Homo sapiens: one gene and its partners. The protein of the gene in region 3 interacts with the protein of the main gene of each other region in a pairwise test. Each region holds a gene or a part of one and is shown on either strand. Other genes may lie near its edges.

Evidence for each region.
Region 1: the proteins of UPK1B (region 3) and MS4A4A interact in binary tests that used the Homo sapiens proteins (3 or more experiments, as listed by UniProt).
Region 2: the proteins of UPK1B (region 3) and SLC35H1 interact in binary tests that used the Homo sapiens proteins (3 or more experiments, as listed by UniProt).

The regions. Positions count from the first base shown.
Region 1 is NC_000011.10:60,275,858-60,283,683, reverse strand, and holds the start of MS4A4A (membrane-spanning 4-domains subfamily A member 4A), read right to left. Parts: upstream 3,019-7,826; 5' UTR 3,009-3,018; coding exon 2,968-3,008; intron 1,091-2,967; exon of another isoform or gene 945-1,090; intron 1-944.
Region 2 is NC_000020.11:46,347,408-46,354,427, forward strand, and holds part of SLC35H1 (solute carrier family 35 member C2), read right to left. Parts: intron 4,820-7,020; coding exon 4,644-4,819; intron 3,484-4,643; coding exon 3,354-3,483; intron 3,118-3,353; coding exon 2,987-3,117; 3' UTR 1-2,986.
Region 3 is NC_000003.12:119,168,989-119,176,598, reverse strand, and holds the start of UPK1B (uroplakin-1b), read right to left. Parts: upstream 3,002-7,610; 5' UTR 2,961-3,001; intron 1-2,960. UniProt on the Homo sapiens protein: Component of the asymmetric unit membrane (AUM); a highly specialized biomembrane elaborated by terminally differentiated urothelial cells.

The sequences.
Region 1 (7,826 bases), on a different chromosome or scaffold from region 3:
ATTCTAATAAAGCCCATAAATTGACAATTTACCTACTTGTCCCAGAAGGGAGAAGAGGTTATTTTTATTTCAAACCTTAGAAGACCTAAATAGAAGACATCCAGTCTTCCTCAAAATTTCCCTTTCAAAAAAGTAAGGTGGCGCAAATCTTCCTATGTGGAGATTATTTCAGAGCCCTGTAAGTAGTTGCTAATCAAGAGTGGCAAGAGCTAAAGGGAACAGGAACCCTAAGAGGGCTATGAAATTACAAGTGTCCTTTCTTGGTGGAAGGTCCAGCAATTAACTACACTATCCATGTTAAAAATCTGGAAGTTTAAAGCTGGGCATTTTGACTCAATCCTGTAATCCCAGCAGTATAGGAGGCCAAGGTGGGAGGACCGCTGGAGCCCAGGAGTTTGAGATCAGACTGGGGAACATGGTGAAACCCCATCTCTACACAAAATGCAAAAATTAGCTGGGTGTGGTGGTGGGCGCCTGTAATCCCAGCTACTCAGGAGGCTGAGGCCCAGGCTGCAGTAAGCCACAATGGCATCAGGGTACTCCAGCCTGGGCAACACAGTGAGACCCTGTCTCAAAAATATCTGATAGTTTGTCATTGGTTCCTTCCATTGCCTACCCTCTATGCTCAATCAATCTCATTCTAATCCTACACAACCATTTTTCAACTCTGTGTATTTCTCCCATCTTCTCAAGGCAAGCCATTATTCTATTTTTATCAGAAGTATTCATTATAGCCTCTGAATGTTCCCTGTGTCCATTTGTGGCTTTGGATATTCAATCCACCACTGATGTTGTAGCCAGAATGATCAAATACAAAAACAATTGAGTCACCATCCCCTTTAAAAGCCTTCTTTTATATTTCACCACCCTTAGCATAAAGTTAAAATTTTTAATGTTGATAACAAAAGCTCGGCTACTTCAGCACAAATCTATTGTAGTCTTACCTCGAATCTCTCTCCTTTTAATTTTTAAAGCTCCAAGTATATTTGACTTATTTAAGTTGTTCCAAAGACGTAATTTCATTCCTATATTGAGACATCTGCATATATTGAAACCATTTGCAGGAATGTTCCACCCCTCTTGTGACCACCTTGTAAGAACAAAAACAAACCCACCACATCATCTAATCTTCTCACACATGAACAGCATTTTATAGTCTCTATCTTCTCTCAGACACTATTCCCCCACTTCCCCACCATTGCCCACATGTGGATTAGTCAGCCTATGACGGTAAATAAGGGTTTAAGAAATGTGTTATGTTCCTTCTACATTGCAAAAGTCAAAGTTATTTGGAAAGTGACTAAAGATGATTCTTCTTAGTCCATCTAAATGTGTACTTTATTCTTCTTTAATGTAAAAGAACCTCTGCCTCAATCTCTCAGGCACACCTTCAGACTGAGAATTTAGGACATGTTGGGTCTGTCTTATCAAACGCACTGGTGGTTCTCTCTCTGTGTTTAGTGCCTCTCTGGTAAGACTGTAAGCTTCCTCGAGGGCAGAGCAATTATATCAAAATAAAGCTTGTAACTGACTCCTATGCTTTCCCATAATTCTTTGGTAACATAGGTCAGGTTCTGGTCATTCAAGGCTGGTGCTTTGTCATTCTAAGAAACTCTGGCCATAAATTCATATAACTGCCTCCTCTTTTTCCACCACAGAAATCCTTGTGTTAATTATCTACGGCACATGAAGTCCCCAAGAACAAAAACGTGTTTACCATCCAGGGCTTGACTTCTCTATATTCAATTTTTTTTTTAACTGCTGAGAATATTGGATGCATATGAGGGACATTTCTTCCAGGTTGGAGAAGAATTTAAACCTTGGTTTTGCCACATCACCTATATGCATCAGGCTCTTAAGAAATACAATGTCTTTCCCCCACACCCCTGATAAAGAGGTGGGGAAACCCAGACCACCCTTCCCTCTTCTATTGGCCCCAGTCACCTTGTGGATCAGCAGCACCACCAGTCTCTTATTTCCTCATTTTTATGTCACCATCCTCCTCATGGGTCACAATTGCAAGGAGAGAGCATGAGGAGAGTGGTACAAACAGCCATCCGTTTTTCTTGGCAAAGTTGTCAAATAGACTAGAAACCCAAAATGAGGCCTGAATCTGGATGGTTTTAGAAGGATGATGGGGATGCAGAAGTGGTGGCATGGGAAGGGAAAAGGGGGAAAGGCCCGGGCTAGGAACCAAGAATTCTGTTTTTGTTTTTGTTTTTGTTTTTCTCCCAGCCCTTTTGTTAACTTGTGTGATTCTGGGTACATTATTTCCCTTTTATTGGCTTCTTTTACTTCATCTGGGGAAAGATTACAATGGCCACGACCACTTACAAGCTTCTTTCTTATCCTAAGAATGCTAAAAGTCTACAAGGTGTTTTTCATTAGCAGATTTTATCATGAGCAGCCTCAGTTTACTGCCTGGGTGCCCCATGAATAGTGCCAAAGACCACTGGAGAACTAGGTCAGGCCACAGCCCATCTAAATGTACAAGGCTGGGGACCCTGCCTGTGCCCTACTCCATGTACACCAAATTCTGCATGTGATACATCTGTTCTTAAATCCTGAGTTATAAAAATAACCAGTCAGACACAGAGAATAAAGACCACAGAAGAAGGGCATTAACAGTAGATGAGGTAACTAGTCAAAGGTTTAAAATGTTGCTTTCAGTGTTTTGATATCCTGAAGACTCAGGGGACAAAAGTAACTAAACAACCTTATCCAGCCTCCAATGTCAGCCTTTAGGAGGCTTTTCTAACTCCTATCGACTGTAGCAAAAACTGTTCCTCATCCCCCCACCGAATGCACATTTAAAGGTGCACTCAACCCACCCCAACCCTGAATACCAGCTTGGGTCATGGGAAGTGGCCTCATTATTCTTCTCATTCCCCTCCCAGAAATTCTTAACCCAGGAAGTGAAACAAGCCATCAGCCCGAAAGCCTAGGAAGGCAAGTCCCTGGACCTACCTTTCTTCAGGCCTGCAATGTCTGCTGTAGGTCTGATGCATGCAGGGCTCTGGGCAAGTTCCTCAAAGTTCTTTGGTCTAGACCCAATCAACTTCCCCCACTCCACACCTCACTCAGTTTAAATCTGCATTCCTCTTCTAGCAGATGTTTGGAACCTTAAAGGCTGTGCTGAGAATTTCTGAGACGCACAGCTAGTTCCTCTTTTATATCGGAAGCATTAACTGATTTTGTGTTCCCAATATGGGTGTGGATGTCTATTTTGAAATTTGCTGAAAAAGCAGGGGCTGCCTGATACAGTCTTTCCTATGAAAATAATACTGCTAATTACTGTGGATATCAGTGGTAGAGGATTTACTGTATGCCAGACTCTCTTCAAAAGTCGTTATATAAACAAGTAAATGGTATTTTGTAAATACCCCCTTTCACAGGGTCACACATTTCCACAGTACTCTTGTCTTCCTGGAGCACTACTATTACTATTTTATTAGGTTGGTGCAAAAGTAATTGCAGTTTTTGCCATTATTTTATGGCCAAAATCACAATTAACTTTTGCACCAACCTTAATATACACAACTTAAATGTTTTATTTACATGAAATTCCACCTTTAGAGATTCATCAGGAGTGGCCATAAAATGGCAACAAGTTGGTTGTATGGCAATAAAACAACACCTTTCTAAGTGAAGGAAGCAGCTGGTATCATAGAACGAGCTGGTCTTTGACTAAGATCAAACCAATGGCAAACATTTCTTGCATGGCCCTGTTAATCTCCTGAACCTAAGATTCATTTGTAAAATAAAATAATGCCTACTTTACATGGAGGAGGAAAGCAAAGTGGTGTGCAGTTTTCATTCATTCAGCATTTTCTTTAGAAAAACTACTATAAGCCAAGCAGTGTGCCGTGTGCTTCTGAAAAAATGGTAAAAAATAATTTTCACTCAAAGAGTTTATAGACTACTTGGAAAAACAGACCAGTAAATAAATCACTACAATCCATTACTATCAGTTATCTGCAAGGTAAAGTGGCAATACAGATGAGTAAATACATCATTACAACCCATTGTAATCAGTGATCTGCAAGGTAAAGTAGGATATCCTAAGAGAGCTCATAGGAGGATCAATGAACCCAACATTGGGTAGGCAGAGGAGACTTCCTAGATAAGGGGACATCTAATTGGAGACCTGATGAATGAGCAAAAGACACACAAATGGAAAGGGAATGAAGGAAGGTAATATTATTATTTCTATTTTTCAGAAGAAGAAACTGAAACTCAGAGATATTCGTATAGCTGGTATAGATGAGATTGAAATCCAGTTTTACTTAATTCCAAAAACTATGTGGTCTATAATCTGAAATTACGATTCTCAAAATTAAAATAGATTATATTTCAGAAATATTGTCCTGGTTTCAGACAACAGGAATAAATAATAATAAAATCAGAGAATTAGGCTCAAGGTAGAGGCAGTTCTCTAGGGAAGGGATGATGGTTACTGAACTACCTGTGATGCTAGTGAAGTTGGAGAGAATGAATGGATTTGAAAGATGCTTAGGAACAAGAAATGACAGTACTTGTTGGTATAATGGATGTGTAAATCAGGAGAAAAAACAGGAAAGGATGACACTCAGATTCTGGGTTAGGAAACTGAATGAGTGATAGAGCCATTCAGTAAGGCAATAGACATGGACCAGGACAGAACTGCAGGAACAAATAGTAAAATTTTGAACGTATTTGATCAGAGTTGTGTAGGGACCTTCAAATAAAGTTGACAAGAAGTGGATAACTGGCAGGAGCTAGGGAATGAGAACATGGCTATAGAGGTAAACCCAACAGCTCTTCGCCCAGAGGGATGAGGTCACCCAGGCTTGTGGGTGGAGGCAGAAAACGTCAAACCCTTTTTCTAGAGGATAGAGACAGTATAATCAGAAATAAGATTTCCCAGAGGATTATGAAAAAGAGGGTAAGGAAGATAGCAGGCAAACTCGGAAAATGTGGCATTGCAGAAGACAAGGGTACAGAGTTTCATGACTTCCTAAGAGAGGTTGAAATTCTGGACTAAGGACAGGCATCAGTCTCTCCTCCCACTCCATATGGTATGAAATGAGACAGTATCAGGTTATTATTAGCAGATAACAATTTCAAGAGAACAATAACATGAAATTTGACAGAGAAATATATATATTCTATATATATAGAATATATATCCTATTATATATAATAGAATATCTATATATTATATATAATTATATATCATATACAGATATATTATATATAATAGATATAATATATAATATATATTATATAATAGAATATATATTATATTATAATAGAATATATTATATATATAATAGAATGTATCTCTATATAATATGTTATATTATATATTAACAGAGACTGGGTTTCACCATTTTGGCCAGGCTGTTCTCGAACTCCAGATCTCAAGTAATATACCCTCCTCAGCCTCCCAAAGTGCTGGGATTACAGGCGTGAGCCACTGCACCCGGCCTTGAGCTGGATTTTGAATCCTATGCCCTATGTGAGCTGGAGCAAGTTGCTTAGGCTTTCTGCACCTCAGTTTACTCATCTGTAAAATATAGATAGTAATATGTCATAGCGTTGTTGAAAGGGTTATATTAGGTAATATAAATAAATTACTTATCATTTTTTGAGCACAGAAATATTTCAGTAGGAAGAAATCATTCAATTATTATTAAATACTTCAGAGAGACAAGCTAACAACAGTAAAATGTTCACTGGATTTAGCCTGAAAGAAATCATTAGTGCCCCCTTCCCCAGTTCCCAATCAATTTTCTTTCTCCAGAAGCAAGTATTTAAATTTTAATTGTTTCTTTTTGTGTTGACTCCATATTTCTAAGTGAATGATTTTAAATACTGTTCTAATTTTTGGTTTTATATATTATGCACTAACCTCCTACTACTGAAGACAATAGACTAACCCCTATATCCTTCATTTTTACCCTGGACACACCTTCCCACCATAACACTTCCTTTTCCCTCATTCTCCCATATAGTTTTATCACGATTTTTTAGTTAACTCAATTTATAGTATTTAAATCATTAATGGCTAATTCATTATGAGTGTTATGATTACGCTTCCTTTTGACCATTTTTCTCTCTGAAGTTAGTAACTGCCTCATGTTTCATATGCTGTTTTCTACATACCTGAAAATAAGTTGTTTTAAATACTCCACCATAAATGTAAATCTCAGTGTCTATAGACCCACAGGTAATTGATCTGTTTCATTAGTATTTTTCTGTATACACTCTCCCTTCCTGGCGCCTTATATTCTCCTATTCCAGTTAGGACTGGTTATACTCTAGGCCTTCAGGGATCTTAATTCACTATTCTCAGGGAATTCACTTACTTAAGTATTCACTATTGATATGGTTTGGCAGTGTCCCCACCAAATTTCATCTTGAATTGTAGCTACCATCATTCCCACATGTTGTGGGAGGGAACCACTGGGAGATAATTGAATCATGGGGGCGTGTTCCCCCATACTTTTCTCGTGGTAATGAATAAGTCTCACCAGATCTGATGATTTTATAAGTGGTTTTCCCTTTTGCTTGGCTCTCAATCTCTCTTGTCTGCCGCCATGTAAGATGTGCATTTTGCCTTCCACCATGATTCTGAGGCCTCCCCAACCATGTGGAACTGTGAGTCCATTAAACCTCTTTTTCTTTGTAAATTACCCAGTCTTGGTTATGTCTTTTTTAGCAATGTGAGAACATACTAATACAACTACCTTCTCAGACAATTAGCTGTGTCCCCAGACATATTCAACTGAAAGCACTTATAATTCTTGAGACTTACTGGGGTTCTACAAAGAGAATCAAATTTTTTCTAAGCTTCCAATTCCGTCAGTCAGGTTTTCACTTTCCGGAGGCTGCTAAGTCATTTATTGCTTGTCTAGCTGGTTTCTAACATTTAAAAAAATGATCCAATTTCTCTCATATTATTTTTGAATTTTTGGATTTATGACTTTCTCCCAGACCCTTTATAGTCATTTAGTTGGGTTTCATGAGGAAATAGATGTGTTTAATCCACCAAGATTAGCCATTATTTGAAAATTATATTTTTATAAGTGTTTTTCTTACCAGTTCATTGTATCTCTGAGGACAGATAATGTATCTTATTTATCTTTTTGATTTCAACATTTCTCAATGTCTGACACCAGGTAGGAACATTTCTGTTGAATGCTATTGGGTGGGTAAAATAGAAACAATGCAGAGAATGGATGTAGGTGGCACATCAGTCAGCAGTGAACTGAGATACAGTATCAGAGAAAATTATATTACAATCTCAGCTAAAGAGATTGGTAAAAGCCTTAGAGATATCTGGAATAAAAGATTAGAACAGAGGGAAAATGTGAAAACAAATATATTAGGAAGTAGGAGTCATGTAAAGTTGAGGTGATAGATCTAAGCACTGTAATTCCTCATTTTGAATCTAGAAAAAATATTATTTTGTATCCTTTTAATAAAAATATTTTTCCAGTGCCTATATAATTCTAAATTAAAAGCACAAAATGTTTTTTTTTCCCATATGGGTTTCCTTTGTGCTTAAGAAATGGTTCTTCAAATAGTACATATGTAGCAAAGAAAGGTATTATTCTTAAGAAAACACTCTTAAAATTCTTAACACTTAACCTCAGATACTGGTGCCTATGTATATTAATATGCAAAATAAATGCCAGTGTCCCCTAAGGACAGGGTCTGTTTAATGACAATAGCCCAACTCGTCTATGCTGACACCAAAGTAGTGTATACAAATCACATTCTTCTCTTCTTTATCATTACAAGATCTCTTAGCTCTGACCAATTTACTGCTCTGCAACCAT
Region 2 (7,020 bases), on a different chromosome or scaffold from region 3:
ATTCCCCAGCCCACTGCCTCATCACTTTCCTGGGCTGGGAGGAAGGCTGACTCCAAAAATGAATGTCTCTGTCCCCAAGTCCGGCAGTGTCTGCCATGTAGCCAGTACTCACTGAATGCTGTCGACCTAAATGGATGGCCTGGGAGTCCCCACCCTCAGTCCATCACTAGTGTGTGATGCAGGAAGCTGCAGCAAGTACCATGAGGAGAATTCTCTTGGTGCCATGTAACTACTCTCAAGCCACTGGGATTTTCAGGTTTTTCACAGCAGGATAAAGCAGAAACAGATGGAGACAATCCCTTGAGCCCTCAAGGCAGAAAAGGGTACCGGAGTGAAGATGAAGGTATGCCGGGCCCTGCCTGATGGCTCAGGTCCCTCCCACAGGCAAACTGCAGCCCATTCTCACCGCCACCACAACACCAACTGTGGACGTCCTCACATATTGGAGCCATTAACCTTCCTTCCACTGTGGGCCCCTGGGAGAGGTGGTGGGCAGGTAAGCACTTGAAACTCGAACCTGCAGGTCAGTCCTCTCTCCGCCCCTTCTGCAGAAGCCTCGGAGCTGGGGCTGTGTGGGGACAGACACCACAGCCTTGGAGAGACAAGTCACATCCTCAGCTTCCCCTCAACCTGTGCAAGCACCGCGTTGCCATGGTGATGCTGCAGCCCTGAGATGCAATGGCTGCAGACAGCATGGGTGGTTCTAGGGCTCAATGCCGAGGTGGACGCTGTCTGGCCTGGGAGGCCAGGCGATTGGGTGGGCTGGGTGGGGGAGGAGAGGGAGCCCTCCTTTAGGTTCAGCTGGTAATTGCTGCTAAATGAAGGGCTGTCATTGAACCCAACATGTGCGAGGTAAGGGCCCCCGCTCTGCACCTTGTAATTACTGCACCAGACAGCAACGCTTGCTCCCTGTGCTGGGAGGCGGGCAGTGGGGGAGCAGACAGGAAGCTCTCATCCACCTGAGCCAGCGGGGCTCTGGCAGACTCCCCCTGCCGCCCAAGCAGCCTGCATCCCAAGCAGCCTCTAAGACGGAGGAGGCCCTGGCCCCCCTCCTTGGCTGGCTCTTCCCACATCATCCAGCTGGAGCACGAGCCTCCTTTAATCTTGGCCTCTGAGCTTGCGGAATCCAAGGGGGGCAGAGGTGCAGGAGCCAGATAAGAGGCCGCTTCCAAGCGCCCTTGGTGCTCCACCTCCGCCTGCTGAGTCTGTGCTGGGAATCTGAATTAGAGGCAGATCTCGGTCTGACTCCTGAGCACGGAGGCTCTGAGGGCCTCGGGCTAGTCACCGCCCCCTCCTGGCTTCAGTCTCCTGCTGCAGAAGTGGAAGTTGGACTCGAGAATTCTTGAGGGTTCTCCTGCTGGTAAACTTCAGCCAGCAAGCTGGATCCTACTTTTGTAAATGGGGTTTCACTGGGACAGCCACACCCTGGGTCTGTGTCATCTATGGCTGCTTTTGTGCTACGATGGCAGAGTAGCTGCAACAGACGCCATATGGTCCCCAAACCCCAAATATTTACTATCTGGCCCTTTACAGGAAGTTTGCAGACCCATTTTTAAAGTATTAAAGTTCTCCTGGGCTTAACCGAACGAGCTTTAGTGACTCCAACCTGATGGAAACAATTTTAGAACAAGCCCTATCCTTGTCCCCACCCATGGATACCCACTGTCCTCTTCCAAGCACCCCTTTTCTGCCGGTGTCTGGATAGCCGTGGCAGGGCAGCTGGGCTCTGGGAGCCAGTGTGGTGCAATGGCGCCACCTGCTGTGAGTGCCTAGGAGCACTTCGCCTGGAAAGCTTTGTCCCCAAGGGCCGGGGGGGTCTCCCATGGCCCGGGAACCAGTTTACAGGAGTAGACTCAGTCCACAGCACATCAGAGCTGGGGTCTTGCCCCCTCCCTTCCTCATTTGAGAGAGGCCTGCAGTCTAGAGAAGACGTGGGACTTGGCCAAGGAGGAGTGGAAAGCCCAAGCCCCAGGGGCCCATGAAGTTCCAGGAGGCTGTGTGGATGTCACGTGCAGCACGTGCACACACAGACGTACACAGACTTGGATGTGAACCTCAGCCCGGCCACTTAAGCAGCTCTTTATCTTTTCCAGGCTTTAGTCTCTTAGTTGTTAAAAGGATTAAAAGAAATGCTTATATAACATTTAATCTGTTACTAATAATGACTCAATCTTCAAAAGGACTCTGAGATAGACATTATCCCCATTTCACAGATTAAAAAACTACGGCACAGACAGGTTAGGTCATTTGCTTAGGGTCACACAGCTAGTGACAAAGCCAGTATTCAAACTAGGCTGTGAAAACATGTAAGGTCTCCAGAATGCAGTACTCAGTAAACATTCATTTATTTCCTGCCAGCAGGTGCAGTGGGGCCCCACTGGGGAGGGGACTGGTGTTCTAACAGGAGCGAGAAAATGAAGGAGGCCTGGCTTAAGACCAGACATTTGAAGAAGGCTCCAGGCAGGGAAAGGAAAGGAGAGGCCAGGCCCACACTGTCCCCTCCCTGCCCCCACGTCTCCAGCAACACAAGGCGGCCAGTGGACCGTGAACCATTTATTTCCAAACTATAAAGAAACCTGCTCTCTGAGAAAAGACACTGCCCAGGTGATGAAGCTCCAGCCCCTGGAGGTCCAAAACCCAGTCCAAACTCAGTCCCTTTAGAAAGCTGCTGTGCCTTGGAAATGAGTCTCGGCTGTCAGAGCCTGGGAAGTGGTGGGAAGAACCAGCCCACTCCCCTCTCCTGCTGCGATTCCAGCGCAGCTTGGGCCCAGCTCTGGCCAGTCCCAGGCTGGCCTGGTGCTCGCCCCTTGTGTGACCAGGCTCTGAAGGGAGGGGCAAAAGTCATGAGTCCCTGGCTTGGCCCCACCACCTGGTGACTCCCGTCCACAGCTCCCAGCTACCATGATGAGCCCTGGCGGCTTGAGCACAGTGAGTGCTGGCAGCAGGCTGGGGAGTGGCCTGCTTCTAAGCCATTTGCCCTGGCTGGTCACTGCTGCCCCTGGGCCACAAAGTACTCCTCCTCCTCATTGTCACCTTCCTCCCGCTGGCTGCTCCGGAGCAGCAGCTCCAGGTCGGGGCTGGAGCCCAGCCCCTTCAAGGCCTTGGGGCCACCATCACCTTGGGATAGAGAGAGACCACAGTTACAGGCCCAGTCGTGGTTTTCTTGGTTTGCTCTGATTTGCATGTGTGCTGAGTCACCCAGGCCCCACCCACCCACTCTGGAGATGACCCCCACATCTTCCTAGAGGAGTGACGGCAGCAGAGCCACCGGGCACACTTCCTGCATCAGAATCACTAAGAGTCACAGGGAGAAGAACAGAAAACAGAGGCTTCTGGAAGGGACTCTGGGTTACCTCTGGAATGCAGGGCTTTGAGGGCAACGTGGAGGGATATTCCCGAGAGGCAGAGGGCGAAGCCCAGCCAGTTCAGGAGGCTGATCTGATCGCCCAGCAGATGAGCTGCCAACAGCAAAGTGCAGACTTCCTGGGGGCAGAGAAGCAGGAGGGAGCATGATCAACAGGCAGATTTGGCTGCTTGACCAGGAGGGTGGAAGGTGGGGGCACTAGGTACACTCAGGTGGGCAGATCAAGATCTTACTGAAATCCTGGGCCCAGGCAGGCAGAGAGGTCAGGGGACCCGGCCGGCTTGCGGCGCTGTCCCGCCAGCCTCCTTTTGTGAGATGCAACAAAGGAGGTGCTTGTCATGGAATTCTGTCAGGAATAAAAGAGGCAAACCAGATCCCAGGCTGGGGACCAGGGTGTCCAGATCGCGCCTTATCCACAAGGATAAAGGACGGCTGCCCCAGAAGGCAGCCACAGAAGAGAGCCCTGAGCCTATGTGTGAGAATGCTGTGTTACCCCGGACTGAAGACACAACTGGTCCCGGGGCTCTCTATAAACAGAGACTCCAAACAGGACTGGCAAGGCCGTTCATCCAAGAACCACAGCCATGCCTCAGCATGCGGCTGGCCACCAGAAGACCCTTGGACAGGCCTGCATTTCTGGGTTTAGGCAACACTGCTTCAACACTGGTGTGTGCCTGGCCAAAGAGAAAAGTCCCTCCCTGCCCCTGAACAGGGAGGACTGTTGAAATGTGTGGGAGGGAGAAGGAGAAGTGAGAAGAGGTATGAGAGGGAAGGACAGGCCTGCGAGGCAGAGGTACAGCAAGGCTGGCCACAGGGGTGCTTTCTCAGGGTCTCACTAGCCCTGGCCATGGCCTTGGAGGACACCGCCAGTCAATCACGGAACTCTTTCCTGATGAGTCTGGATAGGGGCTGTTCAACCTGTGGCTCCAGGCCACTGCCCAGTGCCAGAGTTGGCAGTCAAGGTAAAATGTGAATGCATTCCAGGCCTAGCAGAGTCAGAGCTGGCTTTGAGGCCCCTGCTGTGCCCTTGGGGAGGGGCGGCTCTCCATCTGTGTCCCTGTCTGTGGGATGGGAGTGATCATACCCTCTCACAGGGCTGTGGTCAAGGCAGAAGGAGGGGCCAGCACAGCACTCAGCAAAGTGCCTGGCACCTAATGGGGCACTTCCTTCTCTTCTCTGCAGGGCCCTGGGGTGCAGGAGCTGGGACTGAAGCTGCTGGTGAGAAACCCCTGGGGGCTCCCTCTCTAAGACAGGACTGGCATCACGCCCGAGTCTGTACCTTAAAAATGCCGGCAATGGAGAGAGTGAGGCTGGAGGTTCTGGAGACCAGGAGGAACTCAGAGAAGCCCAAACCAAAGGCGAGAATCCCGCCAAGGAAGAGGCTCCCAAGTACCCGCAGGAGCAGCCCTGTGTCCTGGAAACGGAAGATTTTCTCAGATGTGGACAAATGGAGACCTGAAAGCAACAGGGAGAGAGAGTGGGAGGCCGGGTCCTGGGCTGCCTTGGCCAGCCCAATGCCAACCACACAAGATCTTCCACTGTAGTAGTGAGTTCTTACTGAGACCTGCTAACTGTCTGCAGCCCAGAGAAAAAGCATGGAAGGTATAAAGTGATCCCACACAGATGGCCTGAGACCTGGGGAAACCAGGGAAGCAGTGATGGCTGCCAGAGCGCCTGGGGGCAATACAAGCCAGATCCTAGCAGGATGATGCGGATCCTAGCGGGATGATGGGACCCTAGCGGGATGATGGGGATCCTAGCAGGATGATGGGATCCTAGCGGGATGATGGGGATCCTAGCGGGATGATGGGATCCTAGCGGGATGATGATGGGATCCTAGCGGGATGACGATGGGATCCTAGCGGGATGACGATGGGATCCTAGCGGGATGACGATGGGATCCTAGTGGAATGATGGGGATCCTAGTGGGATGATGATGGGATCCTAGCGGGATGAAGGAGATCCCAGTGGGATGAAGGAGATCCTAGCGGGATGATGGAGATCCTAGTGGGATGATGGGGATCCTAGCGGAATGATGGGGAGGGCTCGTCTGAGCCTCTGGGGTGAAGTAGAGGGGGGTGGCCCTGCATGGAAAGACGGATGGAAGTGCCCTGCACCTTTGGACAGTATTCCCTTACTGGTCTGTGGGGAGGGGCTCATGGCTGCTGACTTCATGGGGTCTTTGGAGCTGTGGTAACTACTGGGCTAAAGAAGGTAGGGCGGCTACCAAGTGACGAAGGACCAACAGTGCCCCAGCCCACTCAGGGAACTCCTTGGTCTACATTTCAGCCAGTTCACCTACAAACAGGGACAAAATTCTATCCCTACAAACGTTCATTTTAATCTAGGTCTTGCTAGTACAGAGCTGTGGGACTTGGGCTGAGATGTGTCCCCTTTCTGGACCTCAGTTTCCTTACTGATAAAATGAGAGGCCTGGGACCAGACTGGTATTTCTCCAACCCGTGGTATCACTTGATGAACATTTCCCAAAAAGAAAATGCAAACACATGGCCCCTTGCTCCAGAAACACAGGCATGCACACCCCCTACCCCAAATTCAGCTTAGACTTTCGGAGGAGTCATGGTCCCTCCAACACTGTCCATCTGGAAGAATGACTCCCGGCGTCCCTCCCACACGAAAGTCCTCGTGGTGTATTAGCACAGGGTGAAGGGGGGCCCAGAACTGGGCACAAGAGACAACTGTGGTAGCTGGAAGCTGGACGAGTATTTTGAGATTTTTGGAGGGAAGCACCAAAGAAATGCCGAGTGACAGTCCCCCCAGGCAAAACAGCCTCACAGTGTAGGACATCTTGTTTGGTGCTGGGCTCAGCAGAACTGCAAAGGCGTCGGCAAATTGAAGGGAATTCGGGGAAGAGCAGCATAAGTAATGAAGGCGCTTGGGGGATTAATTTACCAGAAAAGATTAAAGGAGCTAAATCCATGCAGCTTTGCCAAGTGACGACTACCAGGGGCTTTCAGATGAGGTTTTGCAGAGATGGGGCATGGTGTAAACACACGGGAGGGGAGGGAGAGTGTGGCGTTTGGTACAAGGGGGCATAATGAAGGAGTGGGGAGAGATTTTAAAGAAGGAAAAAAAACGAGGCCCTGAACAGAAGTTTCCTGGACAACGGGGCTTCAGAATAATTTTCTTGGGGAGGTTCAAGACGCTTCACTGCTTGAAACTTAAATGGATGTGGGACAGAATTTTCTGTAATGACCCTGAGGGCATTACAGACGGGACTCTGGGAGGAAGGATAAACAGAAAGGGGACAAAGGCTAATCCCAAAACATCAAAGAAAGGAAGGTGGCGTCACACCTCCCAGCCTACACAGTTCTCCAGGGCTCTCCTCATCCCTGGAGGACGACAGTGGAGGAACAACTGACCATGTCCCCAGGCTCCTGTGTGCTGGCTCCTGGTCTTCAGCCCCCAGCTCTGGAAGCCCACCCTCTGCTGATCCTGCGTGGCCCACACTCCTTGAACACACATCCCCAGGTTATATTCCTGGACATGGCTGAACCTCCTATTCCTACTTCCGAGATGCCTTGCTCCCTGCAGCCTGCCAAAATCCCACTCACCCTCCAAACCACGGCCTGGGAAGCCTTTCTGACTTGCCTGATTACTCCAGCATCTTGGAACAATCCCTGATTCCCCATTCC
Region 3 (7,610 bases):
CCTGTGCACCCCGCCCTGTGGGAAAACTGCCCTGTGGCCTGGTATGATGATGATTTACTCAAATTGCTCAATACCCTGGGAGTTCCTTTGCTTTAAAGAGTGCAGATTTTTTTAAAGCTAGAATTATATTTCTTGTTTTTTCTTTATTGTGCTTTCACTCAGTTTGTTTTCCTATAAAAATTAATCATACCCGTAGTGTTGATGTTTCCAGACACATTGAAAGGTCTAAAAACAATTGCTCACTAAACAAACCAATTTGCAAAGCAGAAGAAAAAGAAGTGAGACTCGCCCAGTAAGCATGAGATCATTTTTTCAAGTTCATTACCTCTTTTCCTCACCCAAGTTTGTTGTACCAGAGAACACACAAACCACACCTCAAACTTTAGTTCATGCTAGAGAAATTTGAATTAACAAAGGAGAAAAAAAGAAAAGGAAAAATAGGAGAGGAAGAAACAAAGAAACACAATATGCGATTGCCTTAGCCCTCACCCTGAAACTCAGCACAAGAACAGACACTTCCTTGGCTCAGAGTAAAGATGGGTGTGGAGATTGTAGGTCACAACAATTGCTGGTCTGCTTCAACTTAAGGTAGGATAAGTCCCTGGAAATAACAAAAAGAGGAGGTTTCTCCCAGGGCTGTCACCCATGGCTCACAGTGCCCATAAGTTTTTCTTGCTTTAAAGCTCTAAACCTGTGTTGACTAATACAGTAGTTAGTAGTTGCATGCAGTTATTTAAAGTCAAAAGAATTCAATTAAATAAAAGTAAAAATCAGTTCCTCAGTTGCTCCAACCACATCTCAAGCACTCCCTAGATACATGTGGTTAGTGTCTATTATCTAGAACATTTCCCTCATCACAGAAAGTTTTACTGGACAGCACTGCTCTTGATTCCTGGTGCTCCCAGTATGATGGGAGTCATCCACCCATTGGAAATCAGGGACTAGCTGTAAGCAATGGCTCAGGAGCACTCAGTTGCACGAGGGCCTCAGGTGTGGGCATTGCCAGAGAGATGCCCAGCTCCAGGGCAGGAGTACTATGGAGAGTCCTTGGGGCGGGGGGGAGGGGGTGGGCAGGCGGGTAGGGCGGTGTGTGATGATGGTGCCCCCTCACCAATGTGGTCTCTGTCCCAGTTGGTGAATGGTGGCCCATCAAGTTTGTGGGCAGCCTGCATGGCTATCAGGCACAAATTCCAGAGCATATTTAAAGGCTGGCTGGTGTTTACTCTGGTTAAGATTGTAAGCAGGAGAAGTCAAAAAGAAGTTCTGAGTTTTGGCCGGGTGCGGTGGCTCAAGCCTGTAATCTCAGCACTTTGGGAGGCTGAGGTGGATGGATCACGAGGTCAGGAGATTGAGACCATCTTGGCTAACACGGTGAAACCCCGTCTCTACTAAAAATACAAAAAATTGGCCGGGCGTGGTGGCAGACACCTGTAGTCCCAGCTACTCGGGAGGCTGAGGCAGGAGAATGGCATCTACCCGGGAGGCAGAGCTTGCAGTGAGCAGAGATCACGCCACTGCACTCCAGCCTGGGCCTCAGAGTGACTCCGTCTCAAAAAAAAAAAAAAAAAAAAAAAAAAAAAAAAAAAGAAAATAAAAGAAAAAAAAAGTTCTGAGTTTCTTTTTTTTCCCCTTGATTAAATGATGTCTAAGGTCCCCTTTGGATGTAAAAGTCTATGATTCTTCCCAGCAGTTAAAAAAAAAAAAAATAGGTGAGTTGATTTTAAAGACTATTTTATAGCAGAAAGCAAAACAATCTGTTGGAGCAGAAAGCAAAGTAAGAAATTTTTCTCCTCACTGAGAAGGTTAATAAAAAGAAAATCCACTTCTTCATAGGGTCTGAAAACTATGTAACCTAAATTTTGTTTATACTCAAAGTATGTATATCTATAAAACCTAATGAGTTCTTTCCTGTTGTGCTTAGCAACTCAGGCAAGAAATGTTCAAGAAACGTTGTCTTTCATTAAAAGAAGACATTCAAGTTAACAAAACTTCTTTAAAAATTTATTTTTATTTTTTTTAGAGACAGGATCTCACTATGTTGCCCAGCCTGGACTAGAACTCCTGATCACGTGGCCTCAGCTTCCCGAATAGCTGGAACTGCAGGCATGTGCCACTGTGACTGGCTACGAATTCTTAAATGGCTTAAAAATCTTTAAAACTAGTTAGAAGTGGAGTTTTAGGTTTATAAACAAATGCAAACATAAAATAATACTAGCATTATTTGAAACTTAAATTTGTATTTTGTGTGAAAATGTGATCAGAATGAAAAATATCTTTATGTCCTGCAGATCATGGTGGAGCAAAGAATTGGTAAGGAGTAAAAACAAATTATGTAAAAATAACATTGCGTAGATAAAGCTACTTTGTTGACTTACTTCAACTGACACATTTATTAAGCAGAAGTGTTTGCAGAGAATAACTGGGAGTAAATTGCTTCACACATTTCATTACAGGTTGGCAGGACCAAATGATTTCTGACAAGAAGACCAAGAAACTTTCTCTCTGCTAGCCTGAACAGATTATTAAGAAATAACACGAGCTATTTCGTTAAACTTTCTATTGCTTTTCTGACTCCACAAGGAAATTGGGGGTCTACAAAGGTGACTGTCTATGTGCGATTTAATCAGGAGATATAGGGTTTCTCGGGGTGCTTGGATTTTCTTGTTCTTTCTGTGGGGATATCTGAGGTTGAAAGCAGGATGGCTGCGTAATATCTCCAGAAGTTTAATGAGAACAAGACTTATATCAAGGGTATTAAGAAAGCAATTCCAACGGTTCAAAGTAAAAGAGAACAGGACAGTCACAATACCCTAAATTACAAAGAAAAAAATGACAGACTTTATGAATCAAGAATCTAACTTCTTCCCCTTTCCCTCCCAGTCTGCTAGCTTCCCTCCCAGGAGAGCAACCCAGCCCTTGAGCCCGGGAGATTCCCTGCAGAGGGAAAGCGGTCTACTCACAGCGCCTCCTCTTTCTGCGCACACGGTAGGGCCCGCTCCGCAGTCTGCACCCGACCCAGGTGCTTTTCTACCCTCCTGCAATTCTTTGAACCTCCAGGACCAGGGAAGGGTAGTCTGTGATTGGCAGGAGGCACCTCACATGGGCTGAGCTTTCCGCTGCCTGCCCTGCCTCGCTGAGGCGGGGGAGTAACCGGAGGCTGTCAGTTGATTTCTGCTGCTTTGGAATGTGTGACTCTGACAGATGGAAGCACCTTGACAGCCACACTCATCGCTTTCCTGGATCCCTCCTAGGTTTGGGCTTTACTGGAATACAAACTCAGGGATTTTATTTTGATTTGATTTGATTTGATTTGTGTAATTTGATCCTTACTCCTGCTTTTGTGTGTTGAAGGCTTGTTAGTCCTGACCGCTCACAGCGATGCTGATATGTGCTTACCTGTGTAGGGCCATGTCCAGTTTTAGTTTCTATAATTTGCATATGCCAAATTCAGAGAGACAGTAATTGCCCAAGTAATGCTCATACTGTAGGTGGCCCAAAGACTGATAAGGAGCAAGAGATGTGGAAAGAAACAGATTGGGAAAAATTCACGGAGAGAGAGGGCTCAAGTGATTATCTGATGTCCAATTCTTCCCTCCCCTCTTCTTCCCTCCCTTTCTCTTCTCTTCCCTTCCCTTCTTTTTTCCTTCTTCCCTGACTTCTGGAGCCATCATGTGTTATACATGGCACCCAGAACATTATTTTAATGGCTGCATAACCTATCATGGTATACATGCGCCATCGCTTGTTTAACCTGAGTTAGGAATCGGTAACTGCAGTAATGTTAGAATTTACTGAGTGCTTTTACCAATAGACTTGGGAGTTCCTCAAAGGTCAGCATCATCTCTGTTGCAGGTTAGGTTGTTCAGGAGCAGACTTTGAGACAAAATTTAGTGTGCAATATATTTATTAGACAGTGCCCTGAGATTAACACCCATGGCAGGGAGAGGGGAGAAACAGGACTGGGCAGAGGAAGAAGTTGAGCTGCAATATAGATGGGACAGTCTTAAGCAGCCCTCCTCAGGAAACTCTGGAGGAAGATGGCCTGTCAGAGTAGCTCTGACACTGGGCTCCTCTATGATCTGCCCTTCAATGTGGATTACCCTGGGAAGGCAGCTTTCTGTAGCTGAGGCAAGTCCTGAAAGGGGCTGATAACTGGAGGCTGGAGGTTGCAAGTACTCCCAGCAGCAGGGCAACCTCCCACTTCAAGGGGGACTGCATGGAGCACCTCTGTGTCCATCACAAGGCCTTATTCCTCTGCAGCTCTTCAGGGCCTTGTTAGATAAATTATCATATTTCACACAATAGAATTCTGTGCAATGGTTAAAAATGACACCACAGATAAACATTTAATGGTATGGAAATAAGTTCAGTCATTTATTTGACAAATATTTATTGAAAACTTAGGATGTGCCAGGCACTCTTCTAGAGGCTGAAAATGAAAAAGCGGTTTACAAAATAGTTTGTGTAATCTGACACATTTTAATTTTTAAGAAAGTTTACCTATGACTTAAAAAGTTAGAAATAGTATACAGCAAACATTAACCAGAATATATCTGAATGGTAAAATATGGGTGACTTTTACAGTCTTCTATTTTTGCAGTTCATATGTTTACAAAGGATCTATATTATAATTATAAGAACGTACAAGTTATTAAAAACATGTGCTGTCCTGGAAATATTTGTGATAAAGTAGCAAGGAAGCAAACAAGGACATGTGAATTTTCATTCATGTCTTAGGCATTTTATGTTCCATTACCATGATTATATGGGGAGAAAACAAAAAGATTTGAAAATCTTCAAAATAGATAATGTGAACACAAACCCAATAACAAGAGACAAGAGACTAGCTAGGAAAAGGAAGATTAGTTTTCAGATAATAACTGCAACTGAATAGTTGAGGAACGTCAAGTCGTTAATGTATGACAGGCTTATTTTTTTCCAGTTAATTTATTTCTAACTCTCTTCTGCTAATCTTCCTTTCTCTCTGGCTAGGTGGCTCCCTTACCCACATCTTAACCTGATTCCAAGCTCATCAGTGAATTCTCATTACTAATATCTCACTTCTGTTAGAAACACTTAGATATTTTCTTCCTATCACCACAATTCAAACTACAGACTCCAGTAGTTTTGGGGAGAAGTTGAGGTCTTTAATAACCCCCCAACTCCCTGTGTATGTTCATTTGAGAGGGAAATGATGTCGTCCTGTGTGAGTGGCCAGAGAGAGGCTCTATCCCTTTCTGTTGGCCATCCCCACTGTCTAGTTCACCACCACCAGCAGCAGTGTAGACAAGGGCAGTGCACAGGGCTGGCCGAGGAGAGCCCTACTGAACCCCACGAGTTCCTAAGCCTCAGAGGGTGCTCTGCCTCATTCATTGGTTTGCAGTCAGTCTTTGTCCTTCAATCTCACCTACCCTCCAGGACCCCAGTTCTCAGGTGGCTGGGTTCTACCTTCTGCACATCTCAGGAACCTAGAACTAAAGGTGGCATGCTTGTCCCCTTCTCTGTCGGGCCATACCACTGCACCATCACCCTCCAAAGCTTTTCCTTCTCTGTGGTAGTTCCAAGGCAAGTTAGCAGGCCTGGTGACTCATGTGATATTTAACTGGGCTAGAAGAATTGGTCCTACATACACACTCAAACTTTTCAGTCCTCATGAGGTTTTCCTCTGTCATCTTCGGGGCAAGGAACCACTGGAATGTTTGTCTTCTCTGCATTCCCTAACAGATCCCTCACTTCAAATTGACTTTCCTATGGCGAGGTAGGGAGTTATAGTGCAAACTGGGTGAGAAAGAGGCTGCCTCCCTACTGGAAGTTCGGAAAGTGGGTTATTTAATGCCTTTTGCTTTCTCTAGTTACCAATTTCAGCAAAAACACTTCTCAAAACATGATGTTGTCTACAATATTTTTAATATATAGTAAAAGTCCCAGGTACTGCCAAATTTACTCTTCACAATATCCCTTTTTTTTATTATTATACTTTAAGTTTTAGGGTGCATGTGTACAACATGCAGGTTTGTTACATATGTATACATGTGCCATGTTGGTGTACTGCACCCATTAACTCGTCATTTAGCATTAGGTATATCTTCTAATGCTATCCCTCCCCCGTCCCCCCACCCCACAACAGTCCCTGGTGTGTGATGTTCCCCTTCCTGTGTCCATGAGTTCTCATTGTTCAATTCCCATCTATGAGTGAGAACATGCAGTGTTTGGTTTTTTGTCCTTGAGATAGTTTGCTGAGAATGATGGTTTCCAGCTTCATCCATTTCCCTGCAAAGGATATGAACTCATCATTTTTTCTGGCTGCATAGTATTCCACGGTGTATATGTGCCACATTTTCTTAATCCAGTCTATCGTTGGACATTTAGGTTGGTTCCAAGTCTTTATTATTGTGAATAGTGCCGCAATAAACATACGTGTGCATGTGTCTTTATAGCAGCATGATTTATAATCCTTTGGGTATATACCCAGTAATGGGATGGCTGGGTCAAATGGTATTTCTAGTTGTAGATCCCTGAGGAATCGCCACACTGACTTCCACAATGGTTGAACTAGTTTACAGTCCCACCAACAGTGTAAAAGTGTTCTTATTTCTCCACATCCTCTCCAGCACCTGTTGTTTCCTGACTTTTTAATGATTGCCATTCTAACTGGTGTGAGATGGTATCTCCTTGTGGTTTTGATTTGCATTTCTCTGATGGCCAGTGATGATGAGCATTTTTTCATGTGTTTTTTGGCTGCATAAATGTCTTCTTTTGGGAAGTGTCTGTTCATATCCTTCACCCACTTTTTGATGGGGTTGTTTGTTTTTTCCTTGTAAATTTGTTTGAGTTCATTGTAGATTCTGGATATTAGCCCTTTGTCAGATGAGTAGGTTGCAAAAATTGTCTCCCATTCTGTAGGTTGCCTGTTCACTCTGATGGTGGTTTCTTTTGCTGTGCAGAAGCTCTTGAATTTAATTAGATCCCATTTGTCAATTTTGGCTTTTGTTGCCATTGCTTTTGGTGTTTTAGACATGAAGTCCTTGCCCATGCCTATGTCCTGAATGGTATTGCCTAGGTTTTCTTCTAGGGTTTTTATGGTTTTAGGTCTAACATTTATGTCTTTAATCCATCTTGAATTAATTTTTCTGTAAGGTGTAAGGAAGGGATCCAGTTTCAGCTTTCTACATATGGCTAGCCAGTTTTCCCAGCACCGTTTATTAAATAGGGAATCCTTTCCCCATTGCTTGTTTTTCTCAGGTTTGTCAAAGATCAGATAGTTGTAGATATGCGGCGTTATTTCTGAGGGCTCTGTTCTGTTCCATTGATCTATATCTCTGTTTTGGTACCAGTACCATGCTGTTTTGGTTACTGTAGCCTTGTAGTATAGTTTGAAGTCAGATAGCGTGATGCCTCCAGCTTTGTCCTTTTGGCTTAGGATTGACTTGGCAATGCGGGCTCTTTTTTGGTTCCATATGAACTTTAAAGTAGTTTTTTCCAATTCTGTGAAGAAAGTCATTGGTAGCTTGATGGGGATGGCATTGAATCTATAAATTACCTTGGGCAGTATGGCCATTTTCATGATATTGATTCTTCCTACCCATGATCATGGAATGTTCTTCCAGTTG